3 separate regions of the Homo sapiens genome follow, and all the other regions are linked to region 2. The links come from fine-mapping of genetic effects on gene expression. A gene starts in region 2. Each other region holds a variant in brackets. All regions are shown on one strand. Distances are between the middles of the regions.

Region 1 (8,191 bases), 350 kb after region 2:
AAGTTGGCTGTATCTGTGTTGGTCTATTTCTGGGCTCTGTTCAATTTACCTATGTATCTCTTCTTTGGCCAATACCATGCCTACTCCATAACTGTAGTTTACAGTAAGTCTTGAAATTGGGTTATATGAGTTCTATAATTTTTGCTTTTCCTTTAGGCTTTTTTGGTTATTCTGGTACCTTTGCCTTTCCATACACATATTAAATTCAGGTTGTCAAATTTAAAAAAAAGCTACGATTTTTGTCGAGATTCCATTGTAGATAATTTAGAAAGAATTGAATCCATGAACATGAAATATCTCTTCCATTTATTTAGTTCCTTATTTTTTTCAGAAGTGTTTTATAATTTTCTACATACAGATTCTTTGCATATTTTGTTAGATAAGATTTTTACCTAAGCACTTCAGTTTTGAGGTGCTACTTTAAATGGTAATTTTTACCATTTCAAATTCTAATTATTTATTGCTATATTTAGGAAAATTTATTGGCTTATGTATATTGATCTTATATACTGCAAGGTATTTTTTGTTTGTGTGTGTGCATTTTTTTCTGTTTTATCTTGCTTGATGTTTTTAAGCTTTTGGAAACTGATTTGGAGTTTGCCATTAATTCTGGAAAGTTTTAGTCACTACTATTTCAACTATTTCTTCTATCTATTCTCTTTTCTTCTCCTTTTGCTATGCCAAAAAAGTATATGCTACATCATTTTATATTGTTGATCTGTCTTTAGTTTTTAAAAATGTTTCTCACTCTTTTTTTCCCTTTAGTATTTCAGTTTGAGAAGTTTCAGTTTATTTCTTTCAAGTTCACTGATTATTTCTTTGGCTGCTTTATGTCTATCAATGAGCATCCATTGAAGGCTTTCCTAATTTCTGTTATTTTTTTATTTATATTATTTATTCTCTTATCTGGATGTAATTCATATGCTATAAATTCACTTTTAAAGTGTATGATTTAGTAATTTTTACTATATTTATCACACTCACTCTCTGCAAAAATATCCATACTCATTAGAAGCCACTCCCCATTTCCACTTCTTAGCAGCCCTTCCACTCATCAAAACAACTAACAATTGAATTTCTGTATATATGAATTTTCCTCTACTGGGCATTTTTATACATGGAATCATATAACATAGAGATATTTGCTAACTGACAAATTATCTCAATTTTTTGTTTATTTAGAAATGTCTTAATTTATCTTTTATAATTGAAGGACAGTTGTGCTGGCTGCAATGTTCTTGGTTAATGCTCTTTTTCTTTCAGCCTTTGAATATGTCTTCCCACTGCCTTCTTGCATTCATGATTTCTGATGAGAAATCCATTCATAATCTTACAGAGGAGTTCTTGTATATAATGATCAATTAAACTTGTCATACATGTCTCTGAGGCTCTGTTCATTTTTCTATTCTTTTATATTTCTGTTTCTCAGACTAGATAATCTCATTCGAACTCTTTCAAGTTCACTTATTTTTTTCCTTTGGGCTGCTCAAATCTGCTATGAGCTCTTCTCATGATTTATTTATTTTCTTTTTCATTTCCAGAATTTCCATTTGGTTCTTTTGAATAAATAATTTATATATTTTCATTGATATTTTAACATGATAAGACATTGCTTTCATAATTTTCTTTAGTTCTTTAGAAATGGTTTCTTTTAGTTGTTTGAACATATTCTAAATAACGGATTTAAAATATTTGTACCAGAACTCCAACATCTGGACTTCCCAAAAGAGTTTCTATTGACTGATTTTTTTCTTGCATATGTGCCACAGTTTTATGTGCCAAACTTTATTTCTTTTCATTTTTTTTTTGTTTTTTTAAACACATTTTAAGTAATATAATGTAGTAACTCTAAAAATCAGATTTTTCCCCTCTCCAGGGTTTGTTTTGTTGTAGTTTTTAAATTATTTATTTATTTAGACAGAGTTTCGCTCTTGTTGCCCAGGCTGGAGTGCAGTGGTGCAACCTCAGTTCACTGCAACCTCTGCCTCCCGGGTTCAAGTGTTTCTCCTGCCTCAGCCTCCAGAGTAGCTGGGACTACAGGCACCTGCCACCACGTCCTGCTAATTTTTCTATTTTCAGTAGAGACGGGGTTTCACCATGTTGGCCAAGATGTTCTCGATCTCCTGACCTTTTCATCTGACCACCTCAGCCTCCCCAAAGTGCTGGGATTATAGGTGTGAGCCACCACGCTCGGCCTGTTGTAGTTTTCTGCTTATTAAGTTTTCTGAACTAATTTTTTAAAGTCTGTGTTATTTGTCATTTGTGGCCACTGATGTCTCTGCTCAGTTATTTCAGTAGCCAGCTAATGGCTGTACAGAAGTTATTTTAAATTCCTGAGACCAATTAATCTTCAGTCATTGTTAAATGGTTCTCTCTCTCTCACTTGCCATGGGTGTGTGTGTGCATGTGCACATGTGTGTGTTAGGTGTTGGGATACTCAATCAGGCAACTACAGGCATGCACCACCACACCCAGCTAATTTTTTGTATTTTTAGTAGAAACAGGGATTCACCATGTTGGCCACGGTGGTATCAAACTCCTGACCTCAGATGATCCTCCTGCCTCAGCCTCCAAAAATGCTGGGATTACAGGCATAAGCCACCACGCCCTGAAAAAGATAAATTTGGATATACCATTTCAGTTGAAACCAGTAGCTTCAATAATGTGATACATTTCCCTGCGTGGATTATTCAATGAATACAGCAATATTACCAAATGTAGTCTCAAAATAACTTTTGGTAGTAATATGGGAGTATAAGTACGCACTTAATAGGTGAAAACCTAAAAGGAGGTTCAAAATTTGGATTAGTATTCTAGTATGTTTATCAATAATTGCTTATTAATAATTTAATTGCATCTCTGTATAGTGATGTCATAGCATCCACATATTTATACCAGATATTTTTCATATTAGTGTAATATCTTTATAAATAAAACAGGATGATTGACAGCTCATTTTATCAGTCTGTTTCGCTGGATTCTTTCCTCTGTCATCACCCAAACTTTGGTGTTCCAGACTTTCCCTCCATAAGCACTAATGTTGAAATGCTTTTCAAGGCTCAGTTTCCTTCATGCTTTCTAATGGTCTATTGGCCAAAGCAAGTAACATAGCTGAGCCTAGATTTAATGGGTGGAGAAATACACTGACTGCACCATTTTATGAGAAAAGTGGCAACATCAACTTGCAAGGTGTACATACAGGAACAGGGGAAGTTTGCAGCCATTTTGTGAGCTGCTATATTCATTTCGCAGGCATAGTACTTTTTACAGTATTTGATTCAGGAAGCACTCAGTAATTACTTGCTGCCTAACTGACTGATTGAATAAAAGTAGGCATTCATATTTCAAATTGAAGAATGACTATATTTACAATTACTTTTCTTCTTTTTTGAAAAAAAAAATTGCTGCCTTGAAATGGTAACATGCTTAAAAGTGACTTTAAGTTCTGGCTGTTCATTCTTATTTGAGATTAAGAAATGCAATAAAATGCATCCATATTTCATCAAGGCAAAGTGTTAAAAATAGACTACTTAACAGACTTTTGCAGGTTAGAGGTTTTAAACATCCAAATGATGAGGAGAAAACAACTTCAGCATTTTGTTAGTACGAGTAAAAATGGAATATATAGTATCAACATGAAGATATTTTTTCTCTTTTGAAAAGGAACAGATAGGATGGCATATGCTTTTCTAAATGTGGAGCTTCTCAGTGCTGAGTTCAACCAGCACAACAGTAGCAATTAGATGACTCAGCTTCAAAAACGCTCCCTAACTACACTATGCAAAGTCAGGTGGTCTAGAATGGTAGTCAGTGAAAATTTTAGTTATCATACTATTTATTTGAGATGATTTTTACTAGGTATCTAGGTCAGCTTGATTTTCTAGCTTTGTTGCTAGAAAAGTCATGATGGATTTTTTTTAACTTGTTCTTGATGGCCCAGAAATTAAAAGATTGTGGGTCCTAGCATCTTTGATAGATGCAACAGTTGGTTTAACAAAAAATTTTTATAAAATTGCTCCTTAGAAAAGGTAATTTAAAAACATGAACTCAAATTTGTTTGTGAAACTAGTATTGTCAGAGTTGATTAATTGTGACCCTCACATATAAAGGATTCCAGTCTTTAGACATATTTATGGAAGCTGCCATGAGCTTAGTGTTTCTTGGTTCCATTATTAGGTTTCACAGATTTGGATACAAATGGCTAGTTTCATACTTGATCTTACTGTTCTAATTACTTCACTC[A/G]TTTCTCTCATTCATCAACTCTTCTGCCTGGAGGTCAAAATGGGACCAGTTACTAATCAAGGCCAATGGCAACCATGGCTACATTGAGGCGCCATGTTTCATCTGTCAAGGGGCATCTATCACTCCTCTCCTTGTCAAAAAGAAAATTAAATTAGACTAACACGAATTTCTATTTTTGCCCCGATTAAAGGCCTGCATCTTCCCTAGGCATTGCCTGACACAATCTTGACTTGAGAGAGACTCGATGTTCTTATAACATCATTTGAAGAGTGCATGCTTGTCTCCCTGGGTTATTATTCTTCAGATTCACTTGTTTTTCATGGACTATAGGCTAGATAATCTAGACATCCTTTGGGGTGTTAATTAAGAAGAGTATCCAAAATTAATCAACAGACTCACTAGGGCGAAGGGGAGCTGTCTGAGGACCTTGGAATATAACACGCTTCTGGTGCAGAGAAACGAGCCTTCGGCTATTGACAAAAAGCAAACAAGTGCACAGACGGCAATGTGACATAAAAATTTATATATATATGCAAGTATACACTCATTTTTCTTGTCAGCTTGTCAACTTTAATTATAAAGGTTGATTTGCTGTTTGGCAGATCTCAACATTGTAGATGATGACAATTTGAAAAGCATCATATGGTCAATGTCTTAGAAGAACAATGGGATAGAAAGGTAATGGATGAGTGATGTGTTTAAAGTCCATACTGAGCACAAAAATGATTGCACTGTAGCCTAATTGTAAAAATTCTGTCATCTCTTCAGGAAAGAGAATATATTTTACCTATAACAGAATATTGATAATTGATTAAAACTACTGATTTAAAAGGTACATTTCCCCAATCATTATCCCTTATTCTTTTTATAAAGTTTCTTAGTTTACTCTAATATACTTGTATGTATTGGATATTAAAGGTTTAGAACTTGTAGCTAAAAGTAACCTTTTTAGCAAATCCTTGGTTTTGATCATAACAAATTAACTTCAGATCTATAACAAGCATTGTTATTTCACTTCCAACATTACAGAATCAAATAACACTTATCTGTGCTTATTTAGTTAATGAAGTTTTAGTATTTCTCAGCTATCTGCTAACTCGCACAGCAAAGGAATCTTTGCTGCCAAATTAAAGGGTGATGGATTCTTATTATGTAACTTCGAATTTCAACATGTTTTCCAAAGTCAGGAGATTGGGGACAACTGTTTTCACCTTTTAGCATTTCCAAATGCCCTTTGCCAGACGATAGGTTTAGAGTGCTTATATTCTTTAAAGATGGATACACCTTCAAACCCTAGTTTTGCCTCTAGTGGGTAAGAAATGAAGAAGCCACTGACTGGTCCTAATAAGTAATGTTTGAAACCTGAGTTATGCATACTTGTCTTGAGGTTTGGACTGAAACTCTCATAGGTACAACTTGCAAGGCAAGATTGGTACAACCTCCAAATTGGTGAGATTATTTTCCTACAAAAAGTAAGTAGTTTCTTACCTTAAAGCAACACCCTAACTTAGGTTTGACAAGAAATGAAATAAAAGCAATTAAGGGAAATTATTTTGTGCACTTTTTCAGGGCAATCAAACATGCATTCCAAGAGCCCAATTACATATCTTAGCAATCTAATTCATTATTGCCTATCTATCTAGCAGCATGATTATATAATTTATTTCTAATAGACAACATCCGTATAAAGGCTACAAAATATTCCTACTTGATTGTGTACATGAAGAACATTCTAGCAAATTATGTTTCTTGATTCATTTTTTATTTAATCTTCTTAATATTTGTAAAACAATTTTACAAGCACCCACATGATTTAATGTCAAGAAACTTGTTATTGACAAGATAGGAGTTTATGAAATAATCAGAAACTTCGGTGATTAATTTGAAGGACACAGTACAATTTTTTTTGGCTGTGATTTTTGATTGGATGTAATGAGTAAAGTTTTGAAATGGGAAGATTTTAAGCTTTTATAACATATTCTTTTTCAAATATGATATTCTGATATTAGTAACAAAAATAACTTAATCATAGTCATACTTGTTTCAACTATTTCTTAGGATAATTGATAGTTTAATGGCTTGTTAAATATTTTTCCCATAAACCATGCTCAAATTTCTTCCTTTTATCTTTACTTTGAAAAACAGATTCATCTGACTAAGCACATTATGTGTTAGATTATTACTTCTTACTCATCCGCTTTAAAGCATAATCTCATGATCAGATCAATTATACCCAGATTCCTTTGGGCTCACATTTGCTTTCATTCAACAAATCATTACTGACTCTCAACGTGCATGCTGTCATAAAAGTTACATTTTAGGGGACACATCATTTTTCTGTAGTAATATAAACTATCATTTAAAAATATATTTTAGTAAAGATGCATAGTCATAAAGGAAGTGGATCATTTAGCTGATACGTCTTTGGGATCTACTTAGCTACTTAACTAAATCAAAGCCATTGTTCCTTAGGTCAACCTTGTCAGTTTCTAGTTCATCTCATTTCCATCCGAGGCTGCTCTATGGGTAACATGGAAGAGCAGAGAATGGCGTCTACTTCCAAAGGAAGAAAGGGCATATTCACCACTTTGAATATCTCCTTAACTACCTCTGAGTTAACATAAGTTAACTCTTTTTGGAGGTGTAAACTGTGACCATAAAAAAGAAAGTAGTATGATCAATTGTATGTAGCACATCAGAATTCATATATCTAAACAGCTACACAAACAACATGTCAACCTGAGAACAAAACATAAGAGATACTGAAACTTTCCAGGAAATATAACAGGATGGAGAAAATTGTGTTTACCAGAAGCCCTAATATGTTTGTTTCAGTTGGGAAGAATAAATCTCTTGTGATTGAATGGAGGATGTTGACATGTTACAGAATCCATGATCTTGTCCAATGAATGGTCACCAGCTGTCATCTAAGGAGGGCTGGTTCTGTTTACCATGAAACTTTCTTTTGCTAAATAGACAAACAGTGCTGAGATGAGGAAAAGAGGAGAACTTTCCCATGAAGTGCCAATACCATCTCTAAATAAATACTGAAGAATTACTTAAAGTTACTGTTAAACTTTCCATTGTGCCAACTCATCTGTTTATCTGGGCTCTCAAGGCCTTTCAAATGTGTGCCACTGTTCAAAGAAATCTTTTTGGAAATTTTCTTTGGAGATTCCTCTTAGAGTTAGTTGTACATTCTTTAAAACATTTTCATTGATAACAAATGTATATTTGAGTGTGAATTAAATTCATTTTAAACAGTGAAATGTCATTTAATCTTGGTAAATAAATGTAATAACCAGGCTAACTGATTCTCTTCTGAGTCAAAAATACACTGTAACTATAGCATGACAAGGCTACAGATAATATATAAAACCACATCCAAAAAAAAAAAAATAGGGCTTTCAATGTGTTCTGAGCAAAAGCCTTATTACAGAAAGTGTATGATCTGCCAAAAAGTTTATTGTTAGGACAGTATTTACTTTTATTTTAGGTTCTGATTGGTTTATTTAGTAGATAATCATATTTTATATTGACATTGTACTTAGATTTATAGAAAATATAAATATATTTCCAATAAAATAGATCTAGAGGGTTATTTTGTATATTTCATGAAATAGTCACTATAGACATTGCCTGAAGATTTCTGACCAATGATCTATGATTCAAAAAAGAAACTGAAGAAGCAATTTTAGAACAATTGTTTTATGTAGCTTTAGTAAGTTTAAGGAGTATTCTAACAAGAAATAGAACAACCTGAAAATACAGATAGCACGAAAAATAATTAGATACATTCAATTATAAAAAATACTCATGAATGCTTTAACCTATGGCATTTTTAGAATATTTTGCACACAAACCCCACTAAAAATACATTATCTACTTTGATTCTCATAGTAAGCTAAAATAATATTATTAACTTTTTTTGACAAAGATTCAATAACAA
Region 2 (8,191 bases):
GTGGCCCTGATGACTCAGTGTTTTATTCTGTTCTCACGCTGCTATAAAGAACTGAACTACCAGAGACTGGGTAATTTATGAAGAAAAAAGGTTTAGTTGACTCACAGTACTGCAGGCTTAACAGGAAACATGACTGGGAAGCCTCAGGAAACTTAGAATCTTGGCGGAAGGCAAAGAGGAAGCAAGCATCTTCTTCACAATGTGGCAGGAAAAAGAGAGTGAAGTGGGAAGTGCTACACACTTTAAAACTATCAGATCTCATGAGAACTCACTCACTATCATGAGAGCAGCAAGGGGGAAATCCATCCCCATAATCCAATCACCTCCCACCAGGTCCCTCTTCCAATCTGACATGAGATTTGGGTGGGGACACAAATCCAAACCATATCACTCAGTGTGATAACCTTATCAATGTAAAGATAGAGTCAATATTCCCATAAGGAATAGATACATAGACTAGCAATGGAGCCGTTTTATTATAGGATTATTAGGAGTTGAGGTTGAGGCTTAACCAGCCCTTTCTATTGAAAGGCCCCTTTTCCTGGCCTTTCATTAAAAAAGAGAGAGAAAGGGAAGAGAGAACCTATGTCTCAGTTTGTAAATTTGTGAAGAACACCACAGCTGCTTAACAGCCTTCCTAGTGCATGGACATTTTCTTAGGCTTCTAAGATTACTTGGGGAAGCAACACTGAATGGCTGTTAAAATTCCTTAGGAATCATGGAAAACTAGAAGAGTTTCAAGTGACAGGCAAATGTCCAATTTTCTGAAGAAAAAAGACACCTTTTACCTCCTCCATGGTAAGCTCCATTTCATGTCTTCATTAGCAAAAGTCTAATAAGGATTTGTTAAAAGATGGTTTGAAAACATCTGTACAGGAAACATGCACCCTGCTAAAATCCAGCTCTCCAGAGCTTAACAAGTACCAAGCTGGGCCAGATCAGCACTGTTTCTTTTGGGGGTAGATTGCCAGTTGGATTGCTCAGGAGGTCATGTATTTGCATCTCAGCCAAGACTCCTAACACAAATTGATTTCTATTTTATTTCAGTGCCTGTTGTGTGCCAAGTCCTATGCTAAGCATTGAAAATTATCAAGCTAAAATGGCTCAGTTTTATGATAGCAAAAGTATTCTATTTTTCTCAATAGATGAACACATATGAAAGGTTGGAAATTCTGAAGTTAATAAAATTAATGGCTGATTTAATGTATTGAATACACATACCTAGTTCCTGAGGCAATGCCCCCCTAGGGAGTGGTCTTTCATGGCATTTATCCGGGCTCTTCCCTGTCCTATAAACACTCTAGCTACATTTTTATGGTGATGTTTATATATTTTTCATAAACCAAAAATGGTGAGAAAATGTTATTCATTGATGAACCTAGTCCAGAAAGATGATCCTTTTCTCTGACAAAGACCAAAATTGTGATAAATAGTAACAACAAAGTCTTATATTCTTTTCCCCTAATTAAAAAAAATCTACTTTTATATATGCATGTGTTAAAGATTTAGTATTATTGCATGGAATTTGAACCATAAACCATTGAAATATAAATAAGATAAATAAAATCTTCCTATCCAACAGATTGCTCCTTCTTTCCAAACAACAACACTGTCACCTACAACCACAACTGTACAACCACTGCAACCACAACCACACTAATCCAGGGAGGGGGCGTGTGGGGGAGCAGTAAAATGTGTACAGGATGACCAGAGCTCATTATTAAACCTCCATATATTTTGTTCTAACAAATCTTTTTTTTACCCCCACTAGCTTATGAACTCCTCAAAGTCAGGGCCTATATATTGTAACCTCAATATCTGATAAAATGCCTGGACCCTCAAAAGTCCACAATAAGCACTTCTGAAGATGTATTCCCCTCCCCTGCAGAAAACTTAGTTTGCTCTAATATTGCATTAATTATAGAATAGCATGTGTATTAAGTTTATATTGCTACTATAACAAATTGTCCCCAAAGTAATGGCTTAAAACAATACAGATTTGCTATCCCACAGTTCCAGAGGCCAGAAATTCCACAGGGATCTCACTGAGCTCAAATTTGTGGACAGGGCTCCATTCCTTCCTGAAGGCTCAAGGGGAGAATCTGTTTTCTTTCCTCTTCCTACTTCTAGATGCACTCTATATTCCTTGGCTTGTGGTCCCCTTCCTCTGTCTTGAAACCAGCAACTGTCTGACCCTTTTGCTGTGGTCACCTTTCTCTCTCTGGCCACTCCGCTAGGACAGGTTCCCGGGTTTTCATGTAAGGTTTCCTGTAATAAGATTGGGACCACTTGTGTAATCCAGGATATTGCCATGTAAAATAACATATTCATAGATTAGGATTAGGGCATGAACATTGTTGTGAGGCCATTATTACTCTTAGCCAGCATCCAGGTAAGAACGGCTAGAATATACCCAGAATATTTTACTATGTCTCACTTCAATCAAGCACTTGAAAATTGTAGGAAAAAACCAGAACGGAGAGGAGGAGGTCTGGAGTTATACCAATCTCAAGGCGTTTAAAGGAAGAGAGTGTTTGGCTTAGAAAAATATAGCTTAGACCTCTATATAGGGGTAGGGAAGGAGTGTGATTGATGAGGCGTGGGTGATGGCTATCTTTAAAATATCAGAAGGTTCTGTCACAGACAGAGGATTGAAACTTGTGCTTCACAATCTCAAAGGACAGAATAGAATAAATATCTGGAAACTCCTAGGATGCAGCTTTTGGCAGAAAATCAGGCAGAGCTATTATGGCTGTTACTGATGTCCTTAAATGCCACAGGCTGGAAATGTCATAGCTTGATGGTGTGGGAAGTCTTATAAAAAATATTTAAGCATTAGATGAGGGATTAGCTCAGATGACCCCTTAACTTAAATCTAATCCTTAATGATTGTGTAACATTCTATATGGCTTAGAATTCTATTCATGTTTTTTTTTGTTTGTTTGTTTTTTGTTTTTTTTGAGAGTTTTGCTCTTGTTGCCCAGGCTGGAGTGCAATGGCACGATCTCGGCTCACTGCAACCTCAACCTCCCGGGTTCAAGCGTTTCTTCTGTCTCAGCCTCCTGAGTAGCTGGGATTACAGGGGCCCGCCACCATGCCCAGCTAATTTTTTGTATTTTTAGTAGACATGGGGTTTCACCATGTTGGCTAGGCTCCTGGTCTCCACCCGCCTCGGCCTCCCAAAGTGCTGGGATTACAGGTGTGAGCCACCGCGCCTGGCCTTATTCATAGCTTTTGAATACCTCTGATTGCATATAGCTACATCCTAACAGGGCCCTTCATCTTTATTGAGAATCTTTTTGTTCTCACAGAATCCATTGTAAGGATCTATCCCATGCCACAAAAAAGAAGGCGTGAAGAAAGCTGGTAGAGTTGAGATGCCCCCTTGGAAGATTAAGTATTCCAGATTATTGTTGAGAATATAAAAACAATAACCAAAGGAACGGTGCAAGATTTTAAATGCACACAAATACTTAGAAAAATACTCTCCTCTGGCATATCAGACAGAAAAACAAAACAAACAAATAAGCTGTAAAGAGTTAAGCCTTGAAGAAAGTGTAGATTCATTGCTATTAGGTGGTCTGTGTGAGTATTAAGTATGATTCATATTTTGAGGAAGTGAGATATTTTAAAATGAAGGAAAAAGAAGTCGATCAGGTTATTTCATCTTAATTCAGGAAATAATACATTTTTGAGACTTTTTTCATCAGTCCACTTTGGGGATGATTATTTGGAATAACTTGTATAAGACTCATGAGGCTGCTGCAGAAAGTGTTGTTTTTATGTCACTAGTGTATGCTGCATAAAAGCTCTTCTTTATACTTTCAACAATTATGTTACCATGAACATTCTTGACCTTTTAAGTATACCTCTGAATGTTTAGATTATAAACGTGAACTGTACTGTGTTATGTTAGACTATTTGACCAAAAACGTATTTTCTACCACAAAAAAAGTCCAAAAGGAATTAAGTTAATTACAACTTCAATTGTGTTCAAGATCGGTCTTTGTGGTTCTTTATATCTGTGATTTATATATCTTCAAAGAGAGTCTTAAGTGTCTTTGGGATTGTAATGGGCATTCTAGACTAAGAGGAGCTTGTTCAGACACAAGATTTGGGGCCAATGCTTTCAATGACTTCATAACCATTCCATCTTCTTTCTACTTCTGTGGATTACCCAACAGCAATAATGATAATCTGAGCCAGTTCCTGATACTTCTCTCTATAGTCAAGAGAAGGTCAGCTATTTTTTGATCCCCATGGGAGAAAGACAGCTCCTCAATCACTATCTTAAAATAGCCAGCAATTCTCAGCTGCTGGGCTGGAGTTCCTCCAGGGGCGAGCAAAGGGAATATGAATCTGCCGGTGGGGCGTGAGCGAGAAGCCACCAAAACATGAGCTAGGACAGCCTTCTCAAGAAGATTCTGCCAACTCAAAAATATTATTCTTTTTTTTTTTTTTTTGCTGTTGTTTCTGAGAAACTAGGTGTCTTACCATTTTAAAATTTCATATTTTATTTAAAAGGAAACCAGTGAATTGAAAATGAGACTAAATATCGCTATCTTCTTTGGAGCTCTCTTTGGTGCTTTGGGGGTGTTACTCTTTTTGGTGGCTTTTGGATCGGATTATTGGCTTCTTGCAACTGAAGTGGGGAGATGTTCAGGTGAAAAGAATGTGAGTCTCTTCTTCAAAATAGTGATGCACATGGTAGTTATGAAGATACCCTTATGTATGCTCTTGAAATCAGAGAATAGTAGTGGAGTGTCTATTTCTTCATGGAAGAGATATGTAGAAAGCTACTGAGCTTCATTATTTGGGATAAAATACATGTCCTTAAAAATTTACTGGCTGTAATGATTTTGATTATATTTCTTGTATTGATGGCAAGTTACTTCATTTTGTTCTGTGCAGATAGAGAACGTCACTTTTCACCATGAAGGGTTCTTCTGGAGGTGTTGGTTTAATGGGATTGTGGAAGAGAATGACTCCAATATTTGGAAGTTCTGGTACAGTAAGTACAATTTAGCTTTATTTTCCCTCTTGTCTGTAAAATAAAAATGAACAGTTTCTTACATAGTATATGTCACTTCTAGCGGACTGGATTGTGAGTTACAAAATCTCAATTAGATGTCTTTAAAAGGTTCATCATGTAGAGATTCCTTTTCAGTAAGTAGACATGGCTATAGGAATAATTATTTTATCTTTTAGCATAAAACAGGAGTCTGAATATTTATGGCAAAACTGAATTATCCATTGTTTCACTGCTCCTGTTTAGAATACACTAACTCTAACAAACAGGACAGGTATTGTCTATAGCATTTTTTCAAGTGTGTGAATACTATGTTGCAAATAAATAAGATTTTTTTGCTATCAGCCCTTGAAATCTCAAATGTAAAAATCCATAAATAGAGATGTATTATTTTATATTCATAACTTCAAAGTTAACAGTATATTTTTTTTAAAAAAATCATGGAACTTAATTACCAGCCATGGCAGATGAAAGCTTATATTATTTGAGCTTTAACCAAGTTTGTTGGCACTATCAAGAAGTGCCTTGCTTTTGATGTTTGTGTTCTCATTGAAACTTTAAAGTTCTTTTTTAAGGTAGCATAACTTTTAAAAACTATAATGCATTTGTTCAACTCTATTCTTTATATTGAATTAATCTTTGAAAATCAATTTATTGAAAATAGCTAGCGCTTATTTCATTGTATTCAACAATGAAAGGGCTGTTTATTAGCCTAAAGCTTATTGAGAATTGAAATTATTAGTCTTCTTATCAAAAATCAAAGTATGGTATTTACATAATAGTCAGGATTATGGAATATTTAATAAAAATAGGAGGTCCCTGAAGACTTAAGCAAGCTGGTGATAAGTTGGCATATATAAGGAACAAAGTAGTGATGAAGCAGCGTTTTGAGGCAAGTACCTGATAGACTATCTTACAGTGGATTTGGGGGCAGGAGAATAAGCATACAACTTGCCAGTGGAAATGGTTTAGACTTTAGTAAAGGGAAGTAAGTCAGACTGTGCAAGAGGAAGATTTTGCCAAAGACTTGGAGAAAGAAAGAATATTTCAATATTTCAGTCCACCTTAAAGTGTACATATAAAAATTTTAAGTTCTCAGACAACATAAAAGTGCCTTCTTGTGATGTTTTCAAATATTAAAAATTTATTTGAATTATTGTATAACTTATCATTTGCATTCTTCCCTAAAATAAAATGGATATAGAAGAATTTTTTTATTAATTTGAACTAATCAAGGTTAAACTTAAGTTTATTAGATTTTTAAAACAATTATTTTTTATTCCCTACTGTGTGCTAGACACTGTTGGGTACTGGAGAGTATGTGAAAAAAGATGAAATGTGGTACCTTAAATCGTAAGGTGATATAAAGGGCATTTGCATTTATTCCATTGAATTATGTCATGTAGCTAGATGTTCTGGATGAATCCACCTTCGTCTCATGTGCATCTTGATATGAGTTTCCTAGAAGGCCTTCCTCCTCACAACAATTCGCTGAATTTGCTGATGGAACCAGTAGTTTTGTTTTGCTTGTGTAACCCTTGTGCTCTGTATTTCTGTTCCATTAAGGATGAGTCATGACTGAGCTTTTCAATAACAAGTGCCATTGTTTTGCTGTTCTTCCTAGCCAATCAGCCACCGTCCAAGAACTGCACACATGCTTACCTGTCTCCGTACCCCTTCATGAGAGGCGAGCACAACTCGACCTCCTATGACTCTGCAGTTAGTAAGTACCCTCTGTCCTCAGCCTACTTCTAAAAGGGTCTTATCTTTCTGAAGGATGCCCAGATCAAAATTGTTGTGAGCAATTAAAAAAATAATTTAAGACCTGTAATTTCAATATTTTTGATATCTGTTAGATTAAAAAATGTTATTTTTAATGTGCCATTTATAATTTTAAAGAACATAACTTTGATCTAAAAGTAAAGTCATTGTAATTTACTAGCTGCCTATAAAAGTATTTTTAAATGTGTTTTCCCATATGAAGATAGTAATATTTATTAAGAAGAACCGCTTCTTAAGGTTTTAACAGACCTAAAACGAGTCCTACAGTTGAGAATATTGTAATATACATCATACTTCTAAAACTTTATGTCATCATTACACATGAGAATATCACAGATAAATATATAATATGTATACAATAAATATATATGATATAAATATGTAATTATGCTACTATATTTATACAAAATGACTGAACTCTGTGTGTGTAATATCCCATAGGAGACAGACAGACAGATATCATTAACTTAAAATCACATTAAGAACATGAAATTTGTAATAACTTGCTAAGGGTTGATACAGACTATCAATGTCATATATAGAACAAAAAAGTGTTTTTCAAAAATAGTAGCTATTATATTTAATGTTCTCAATAAATTAATATTAGTCAGGGTTCTCCAGAAAAAAGAGAAACAATAGAACACATAAATATATATTATATACACACATACATGTATATACATATGCATGTGCACATACACATACACACATAGAGAGTGAGAGAGAGTGATTGTAAGGCCTGGTGAGTCTGAAATCTACAGGGCAATTGGCAGGCTGGAGATTCAGGTCAGAGCTGATGTTGCAATCTCCAGTCTGAAGGCTGGACACTCCAGTAGAATTTTTCTTCTGCAATCTGGAAGCTGACTTTCTTTTTCCTCAGGACACCTGTTTTTTCTCTTTAAATCTTCAACTGATTGGATGAGGCCCGCTCATAGTATGGGGTAGGGGGTAATCTGCTCTACTCAAAGTCAAGGGATTATAAAAGCTAATTGCATCTAAAAATACCTTCACAGCAATATTAAGCTGGTATTTGACCCAACAACTTGGCACCATAATCCAACCTAGTGGATATATAACAATAACCATCACAGAACTCAACACATCTTTACATGGAACTATTTTTCATCTTCCTGTTAAATATGTAATTCCATACATTATAATTTTTAGTTTTGTCAAAGAATGTAACATTTGCTTGTATTACATCATTAATAGGACACTTATAAAGAGGGTATGAGGTCTGGATAGGGAAAGAGGTGAGCTGACCCACAGCTGTGCTTGTCCACCAGGATTCCTTGGGTTCGAAGGACTGGGACCATTTTCCTTGAAAACATGTGTGGTATGGATGCTCCTTCCCATTAAAAACTGCAGAAGGCACCTCAC
Region 3 (8,191 bases), 88 kb after region 2:
AACCTGGTGAAACCCCATCTCTACTAAAAATACAAAAAATTAGCCGGGCATGGTAGCACATGCCTGTAATCGCAGCTACTCGGGAGGCTGAGGCAGGAGAATCATTTGAACCTGGGAGGCAGAGGTTGCAGTGAGCCGGGATCACGCCACTGCACTCCAGCCTGGGTGACAGAGCAAGACTCCATCTCAAAATAAATGAATAATAAATAATAAATAACTCCATTGCCCACTAGCACCAGACATTGGATATCTGCTTAATTTTCCCGTATCCCAGTTTTTTCACCTGTACAGTGGGTATTATTATAGTTCCTAATTCTTCAGGACTACTGTAAGGGTTAGAAAAAATGATACATGTTCACTTCACTGTTTAGAATAGTCTGAGCACGTTGTAAACAATCAATAAATTGCAGTGATGATTGCCCTTACCTTTTTGCATCTCTCCGTGTATCTACAATTGCCTGCTCACTTGGAGAAAGACACTTCCTCCTGGAAGCCTCCTATGACAACTGACCCCCTCCCAGTACCTTCCTGTGAGGCATGTTGGCTGTCCCTCCTGTCGCTTTCTGTAAAGCTGTGTATGTTCTCTATAGAGTGCAAGCTCCTGTCACATATATTTATTCAGGACCTCCTATGTGCCAAGCACATGGGGCATAGCAGTGGAAATGACAGGCACCCCGGCCCTGCTGGAACTCACCATCCAGTGAGAGTGGTGTTTAGTTATTCAACAACTACTCTTGTTCAACAATACATATTGAAAAGTCAGGAATTGTAAGGAGATTTTTGGGGCACTTCACCTTCTTAGAAGTGGGGTTACCGAGCAGCTAACAGAGGCTTGAGGAAAAAGCAGGAGCTGGCCAGTTGCATTGATGGGGGGGTTTCTAGGCAGAGGGACTAGAAGATGCTGAAGCCCTGAATTAGAAAGGCATGGACGGGGAGGAGGTCATAATCTTGCCTGCGTTTCTTCCCCCTGGGCAGAGACTGGTCCCATCTGGGGTGTGAGTGTGAAGGCGGGCAGTGGGGTGAGAGCTGAGTGGGCCCTGCCTGTTGGCTGGGCTTAGCTGCTGCTCTCACAGGCTTACTTTTCCCTGGGCACTTTGAGGGAATAGAGTCAGCTGGATCCTCACAACCTTGGTATGATTCACGCCCATTTTTAAATGAGGGAAACTGAGAGATGAAATAAGTTATTCTGGTAACCAAGTTAGTAATTTAATGAGAGGCCAGTGGAAGTCTCTCTGCATGAGTATATGATCAGAGATGAAGACTTCCCTGAAATCTGTGAAGCAAAACCAGCTCTCCTCTTTTGGGTAAGAGAAATGGTAATTACGGGAAAATTGAAAAGTATCCAATGATTTTTCAGCACTTTTTAATCCCCTGAAGTGATCGTCTCGATTCAGAAACAAAACACTTGATTAACAAGGAGGGTTACCACTGCCCCGAACATATTTGGTATGTTTATTTACGTTCCACCCCACCCACTCCCAAGCAAAACAAACAAACAAACAAACAAAAAACAGAACATCAAAAACTAATACAAATCTTTGGAGAAAATATCTCGAACTTTTTGTAAATGAATGGTTACACTATGGGCAGAGTTGTCACTCTTGAAATTCAAGCCGGAAAATCAAAGCAGATTGGTGCCCAATTTTATGAGAATGCTCTGATTTTCTTCATTTCCTGAGCATATAAACAATATCTTATTGTGTGAGTGCTACTCTTTTGGAATTTAGATACAGAATATCAACTTGACTTTCAGAATGCAGATACTATGTTGTATCATTATCAACAATAATGATGTTTTCCTTCAAGTACTAGAGACATATATTTACATGTGTCCAAGGAATGAGCTTTAAAAAAAGAGAAGTAGACATTTCATATACTGGCTATCTTTCCATGTCATAGAAATGAATGAAGGGGAAATATATAAATTAGAGAGTATAAAGTGTTTCACTGAGAAAAGCCTTTAATCAGAGAGGACAAAATGGATTTCTAATATTGCTAGGCTTATAAAGTGGAATTGTGAATGCTTTGGTTAATAAAGTTGTTACTACTTCGAAAGCCAAGTTTTTGGTAGGATTTGAGGCCTAGTTATTTACAGCAATACACATGACATTTGTAACAACTAATATGGTAAATATGTGTGTCTCTGTGTGTGAAGAGAAAGGTGATATGCTCATGAAACTGCCACAAGGTAGATTTAAAAAAGCAATATTTTTATATATTAGGTTAGTGCAAAAGTAATTGCAGGTTTTGCTATTGAAAGTAATGACAAAAACTGCAATTACTTTTGCACCAACCTTTATATAGTATTTTACTTAACTTAGAGTCATCAATCATTTCCCCTGCAACTTAGCAAAGAAACTTTATTGTAGATATTTTCAAATACTGTATTTTGGCCTAAAGAACAAGAAAAGAACCCCCCCAATGTGCTCATCCTCCACATTCAACAGGTTATCAACATTCTTCCAGTCTCCTTTCATCTATTCCAGCCCCACTGTTTTCTGGGATACTTTAAAGCAAATCCCTGATACTACATCATTTCACCAATGGATACTCTCTATCTCATAGCTAAAACCCTTCCCCCATTGTAAAAATTAATCTCGATACCATTATTGGCAAAATTAACAATAATTTCTTAATGTCATCTAATTACCCAGGTCTTAACCAATTGTCCAACATTGGCTCGAAGGTAACTTTTAATCGTGGTTTGTTTGAATCAAGACCCATAAAAGATCCATACATTGAGTGCATTTCATTGATCTATTAGGTAGTCTTGAAATAAATAGTGACCCTCTCCTGCCTGTCTTTCTACTTACTACCTCCGTTTCATTCTTTTTTCTTTCCTAACATCAGTTTGTTCAAATCAGCAGGTTATGTCCTGAAGATTGGCACATTCTGGATTTGGCTGGTGGGATCCTCCAGAGTCATTTAGAGTGCAAACTTATGATACATCTGAGACTTCATTAGATTCTTATCATCAGCAGGGAAACTTCCTAGGAGATTTTTTTTATTTTATTTTAATAAATCTCTCCCAGGAAAGACCACCCGGTGGCAGTGTTAGGCACAACTTTTCCTTGGGTGAGTCTCCTCAATGCCAGGGACCTTGCCCCTCCCCTGAGTTCTCTATTTTCCCGGTGCCTGCCAGCCACACCAGCGCCTGCGCATGCGCATGCGGAAGGACTAGCTTCCAGCCCGGGGGCCGCTCTGCCTGCCGGGGAGCCGCTCCCTGGGTCCACTGGGACCTGGAGTGGGCGTGACTGACGGCTTTGCCTGCCTGGCTGCAGAAATCACTGGCTCTGCTTTGGATTCATTGGTTTAAAAGTATAAGACAGTTTTTTGAGGATGAAAAACTGAGGGTTTTCCATTTGAGTTAAAATAAGCAGTAAGATTTGCAGAATGTTCCATACAGCAGCCAATTCGATAGAAATTGATGGCAGCCCGAGTTGTTATTTCAGCCACGACCCCCTTTCCTGCTTCCTCACAAAAGATAACCACCAATTCTGTTACTTTAACCTTCAATCTCTGAGACACTTTCAGTGCTCATTTTTTCATCCAAATGTCAGGAAAGTCTTGGAACAGTCATCTACATCTTTCCGACACTGCCTCCTTGGAGATCAAAACAGTGACCGGCACAGCACGGGGACAATGTTTGCTTAGAAGTGTAGTCTACATTAAGGCTGTGGCACCAAATTACTAAATCACACTTAACCTCAGTTTATTCATTTGTAGAATGCCAACAACAATCACTAAGTAATAAGGACTAAAGGAGCGAATTGCTGTACCTGTCATATAGTCGTTGTTCAATTAGCATTAACATAAAAGCAAGGAAACTCAACTTAATTAGATTGGGTCTTCAGAGCTGGAATTCGGCTAATTTCTTGCCATTTTAAAATTT[G/GA]AGTCATCACACTGAATGAGAGGCCTGGCCTTGGAATGATGGAGTAGGGCCACGTGTGTACTTTTGCAAAATTAATGAGGATAAATTAATTCACTAGTAGGTGACTAGTGCACACTGAAGCTCTAAGCTGGATATCTGAAATTTGTTAGTTAAAATTAAGTAAGAGCTATTTTACCTGGAGTATTTCCTTCCTTGTAATTTAAAATTAAACCTTCAGCCAAAGCAAGTAACTTTAATTTAAATGAATTTCAAACTCTACTCTTGCGATTCTATTTCTCTCTGTGTCTTTCTGCCTGTATAGTCATTGTGCATTAGAGCATCTTTGCTGATGAGGTCAGTTTGCTAAAACGATTTATTTTCTTAACAATTTTGAGTATATTATTTAGACCATTTAAACGGCTTTTAGGGAAATTACTGACAAGCATATTTAAATTCAGAGCCAGGTCACTATAAAGAAGAAAAAGTGGAAGAAGATAAACACCCTCATTCAACATCCAGAAGCCATAATTGTGGTCATGAATAATCGTGTATTCCTCTAATAAATTATTAGATTGTAAGCCAATATATTTTGTACAAAATCATCTTAAACATTTCCAGAAGTAAAAATTCAAAAAAAAAAATCAATCATATGGTTCTTTCTGTCACATTTTGGGTATGAACTAATTTATTTGATGATATATCAATGATGAGAAGAAAACAGGAATATTTAAGAAATTAATGATATAGTGCCATGAGTACTTTGCCAACCACTTAAAAATAAGAAGCCAAAATATTAATGGTATAAAATATGTTTATATACATTCAGAATTTTAATGAGATTCTCTTGATATGTTGTGAGTTAAATGCCAAATTCATCTGCACTTAAGCAGATCATACAGGTATTGAGAATGTGGGTAACATGTATGAAGGCAAATTTAAAACACACATTCCTCAGCTGAAAAGGTAAAATCATTAGAGATTATTTAGTGTGTGTCCAGAGAAACACAAAGTTAAGACATTTTATGGTTAGCTGAAAAATGCTGTGGTGATTTTTCCATAGACACCCTCCCTCCCCATTTCGGCTCTTGCTAGATGATTCTCATTTCTACACTGTAATTTCCAGCTTATCCTAAATATAGACTCTGGATTTCAGCCATCCTAATTAAACTGTGAAGTTCTTTTGTAGTGAGCTCTGATGCTTTGGAAATCAATTTCCAAGCTTACACAAGCAGTGTGTGTCACCTTTTTGGTTTTCTTCCCCTTTATGAATTTATCTGGAGATGGTAAATTTCAAATACTATTTTAGTGGCACATTTGTTCCATTTTTTTGGTCCAGGCTGTTAAAAAATAGTAATAATTATAAACTTCCTTCTGTTTTATAGAGATTAATTCATTCTTTCAAAAGTTTCCCACCTTAAAGTACCTATCCCCTTTCCGCACAAAGTCTTTATAGTATAAATAAAGAAAGTGAGATTAAATTGTTTTTCCTAAGGCTATTTGGAGAAACAAGTATGGGATTCTTTTCTGTTACACAAAATTCATGTTTTTTCTGGACACACAGCTGTTAGAGATAATGGGATCTTCACTAAGGGAATAGAAAGTGAGAATCAAACACAAACATTTCAGTACAAGCCACTCTACAGGATAAGGCTAAAAGCTGGTGTGCGGAATCTTGGGTGTTGGCTCAGGAGTACCTGTGTCTTGACAGTGCTCCTCCAGAGCCGGCCTGGCCCCGAGACTGCACCGAGGAGCTGCATGGACTCTGAGAGCTCACCTTCTGTGACAATGTGCACACCTTTCCCATCCTGCCTTCTGCCCTTGGAGAGCAGCCGGCTGCAGTCCCTGGGCTGGGATGATTGGAGACGAAGTTTTCTCTGACTGCAACTTTGAGCAGGGACTAAGACAATGAAAATTCCATAGGAAGGTTGCAAACTATTTTTTAACAAAACCCAGATGTCTATATCCTTTGAAGGTTCAGTTTGAGAGTAATTTTACAAGGACTCTGGTTTGTCTTTTGGCTTCAACTTGCGGAATGTGATTTTACTAGAAGTCTTCATGACTGTTGTGAGGTGGTTGTAGTGGTGGCTTTCCTTTTAAGTTGTCTTGGAAAGGCAGAAACACCTGAAATAGTCAGTGTGTTTGTCCCAGGGCTTAGGAGGTCAAGGAGCAAAAATCAAGCACTCTATGAGCTACAGTTGGACTCAAAGTGTTTTGCAACCCTGGCTACACATTAGAATACTCGTATGAGTCTTCTGAAATAGATGTTAAGTACCTGGGTTTCACATGCTGACCAACTATATCAGTTTCTTTGGGTTGGGCCAAATGTATGAGTAGGCTTTTAAAATTCCCCAGGTGATTTTAATTTGCAGTCTGTGTTGTAGATCAGAGTACTGGTTCCAAACATCGATGTCCACAGCCATGGGGAGCTCTATAGATCTCCAGGTATGTCACAGAAGCCTAAACATTACTTTTAATATGCTTTATTTGAGACAAAGTAGTTACTACTTTAGATAGCAATTTTGGAGGGTAGATCAACCAGGAAGGAGGCAATGAGAGGAAAATAAATGAAGTACTCAACAGAATGATGCTTCCGTTCTAAAAAGGCAGGGATAATGATTTAGAGGGTTAAGTTTCCTCTATATGGGTCTAAGTTATGAAAAAATATATAAAAGAAAGTTTGGTTTAAAAAGATAGAAGTTATAACAAATGTGCTATGCAACATTCTTTTTTCGGTTGATCTCACACTAAGATAAAAATGTTACATTTTGCTACTAGATATATGCTATTATAATACTGTCAAGTTAGCATAATGGATTTTGCCTACAAAACGGTCCAGTCTTGAGCTAAGATTTAGCAGATTGATACACTTTAAGAAGAAGGAACATTTTCCGGTTCTCATTGTCAGTGTAAAGCAGTAGTTCTCAAACTTAAAACAGAATCATCTGGAACTTGTTAAAACACAGATTTATGGGGCTCACACCAAGAGTTTCTGATTCAGTGGTTCTGGGTGGGACCCAAGAATTGCATTTTTAACAATTTGTGAATGATGCTGATACTACTGGTCTGGTGGTCACACTTTGAGAAGCACCGGTCAAAAGCATTAGAATAGTCATTCATAGGTTCATTTTACGTAGTACATGTCTTGGCTCAGGTTCTCTAGAAATAGAACCTGAGGCAAAAGCTTATATGTGAATGCTTTATTGGAGTATGCAAGCCCTGGGAAGCTTGTGTGAGGGAAAAGGAACATGAAGTCCAGAAGGAGGGCAAACAGATCTGAGGGTGTGTTATGGTGCTGTGGAGCTGACCTGGAGAGAGAAAGAAAAAAGAATTTACCTACCACCTCTCTCAGATGTTCCCTCCACTTCCAAGCTGTGTCTCCTTCCTGTCCAGTTAGTCACTGGAGAAGCCAAGCTCCATAGATATAATCTTGCCAGAGGGCAGTTGGCATGTGCATGGGATCCTAGGTCTACAGGCTTGGCAGCAAGACTCTGCAAAGCACCAGCCTCTGGGAGGGTAGCTTTTTCCATAAAGGAAAACAAGAGCCCCCACCCAGAGTAGCATATAAACTGACCCTGGTAAACGATCAGTGCTTCTCAAATTATTTGCTGTGAAAAATATGGTTTTAAAATTGCCACTGGTTCATAGATCCTTGCCCCACTGTGTCCTCTTGTGCCTGACAGCATGCAGTGCCACATGTGATGTGACTCAGTACATTGGCTCAGCAACACCCAGATCAGCCTAAATCTTGTTCATGCAAGGGAGTCCACTGCTCACATACACAGATGTCATGGCAACGTCAAGTTGCTGTGAAGATTTGCAAATACTGACTCTCAACTGTTTTTCTGCCCCTTTCTCTTCATGAACTGATAACAATTAGCAGACCGGGTTGTCTGCAGACCACTCTTTGGAGAGTGCAAGTGTATTAGTTCGTTTTCACACTGCCAATAAAGACATACCCGAGACTGGGCAATTTACTAAAAAGGTTTAATGGACTTACAGTTCCATGTGGCTGGGGAAGCCTCACAATCATGGTGGAAGGCAAGGAAGAGCAAGTCATGTCTCACATGGAGAGCAGCAGGGAAAGAAAGAGGGCTTGTGCAGGGCAACTCCCTGTTTCAAAACCATCAGATTGGCCGGGCACAGTGGCTGGTGCCTGTAATCCCACACTTTGGTAGGCCGAGGTGGGTGGATCACCTGAGGTCAGGAGTTTGAGACCAGCCTGGTCAACATGGTGAAACCTTGTCTCTACTAAAAATACAAAAATTAGCTTGGCATGGTGGTGAGTGCCTGTAATCCCAGCTACTTGGGAAGCTGAGGCAG

Which allele goes with the higher level. Alleles are on the strand shown, and positions count from the first base shown. SD is a standard deviation of normalised expression in the study named. Not every link is listed here.
With allele GA in place of G in region 3, the expression in left ventricle of the gene that starts at base 4,356 in region 2 is lower (small effect, 0.21 SD a copy in GTEx).

What was found. PIP is the estimated chance that this variant, and not a neighbour inherited with it, causes the effect.
Region 1: its variant is the best candidate, but not a certain one, in a credible set for the expression of TMEM182 in atrial appendage (GTEx, PIP 0.64).
Region 3: its variant is the best candidate, but not a certain one, in a credible set for the expression of TMEM182 in left ventricle (GTEx, PIP 0.54).

Annotation. Positions count from the first base shown.
Region 1 is chr2:103,107,470-103,115,660 of GRCh38, forward strand. No RefSeq gene overlaps it. Among named protein-coding and RNA genes, the nearest start is that of LINC01935, 130 kb to the left of the region's middle. The variant A/G (reference allele first, on the strand shown) is at 4,243.
Region 2 is chr2:102,757,676-102,765,866 of GRCh38, forward strand. It overlaps TMEM182 (transmembrane protein 182), which reads left to right and starts at 4,356. Exons shown (of 5, transcript NM_144632.5): 1 at 4,356-4,674; 2 at 4,912-5,011; 3 at 6,654-6,752. The coding sequence starts at 4,543.
Region 3 is chr2:102,845,473-102,853,663 of GRCh38, forward strand. No RefSeq gene overlaps it. Among named protein-coding and RNA genes, the nearest start is that of LINC01796, 46 kb to the right of the region's middle. The variant G/GA (reference allele first, on the strand shown) is at 3,893.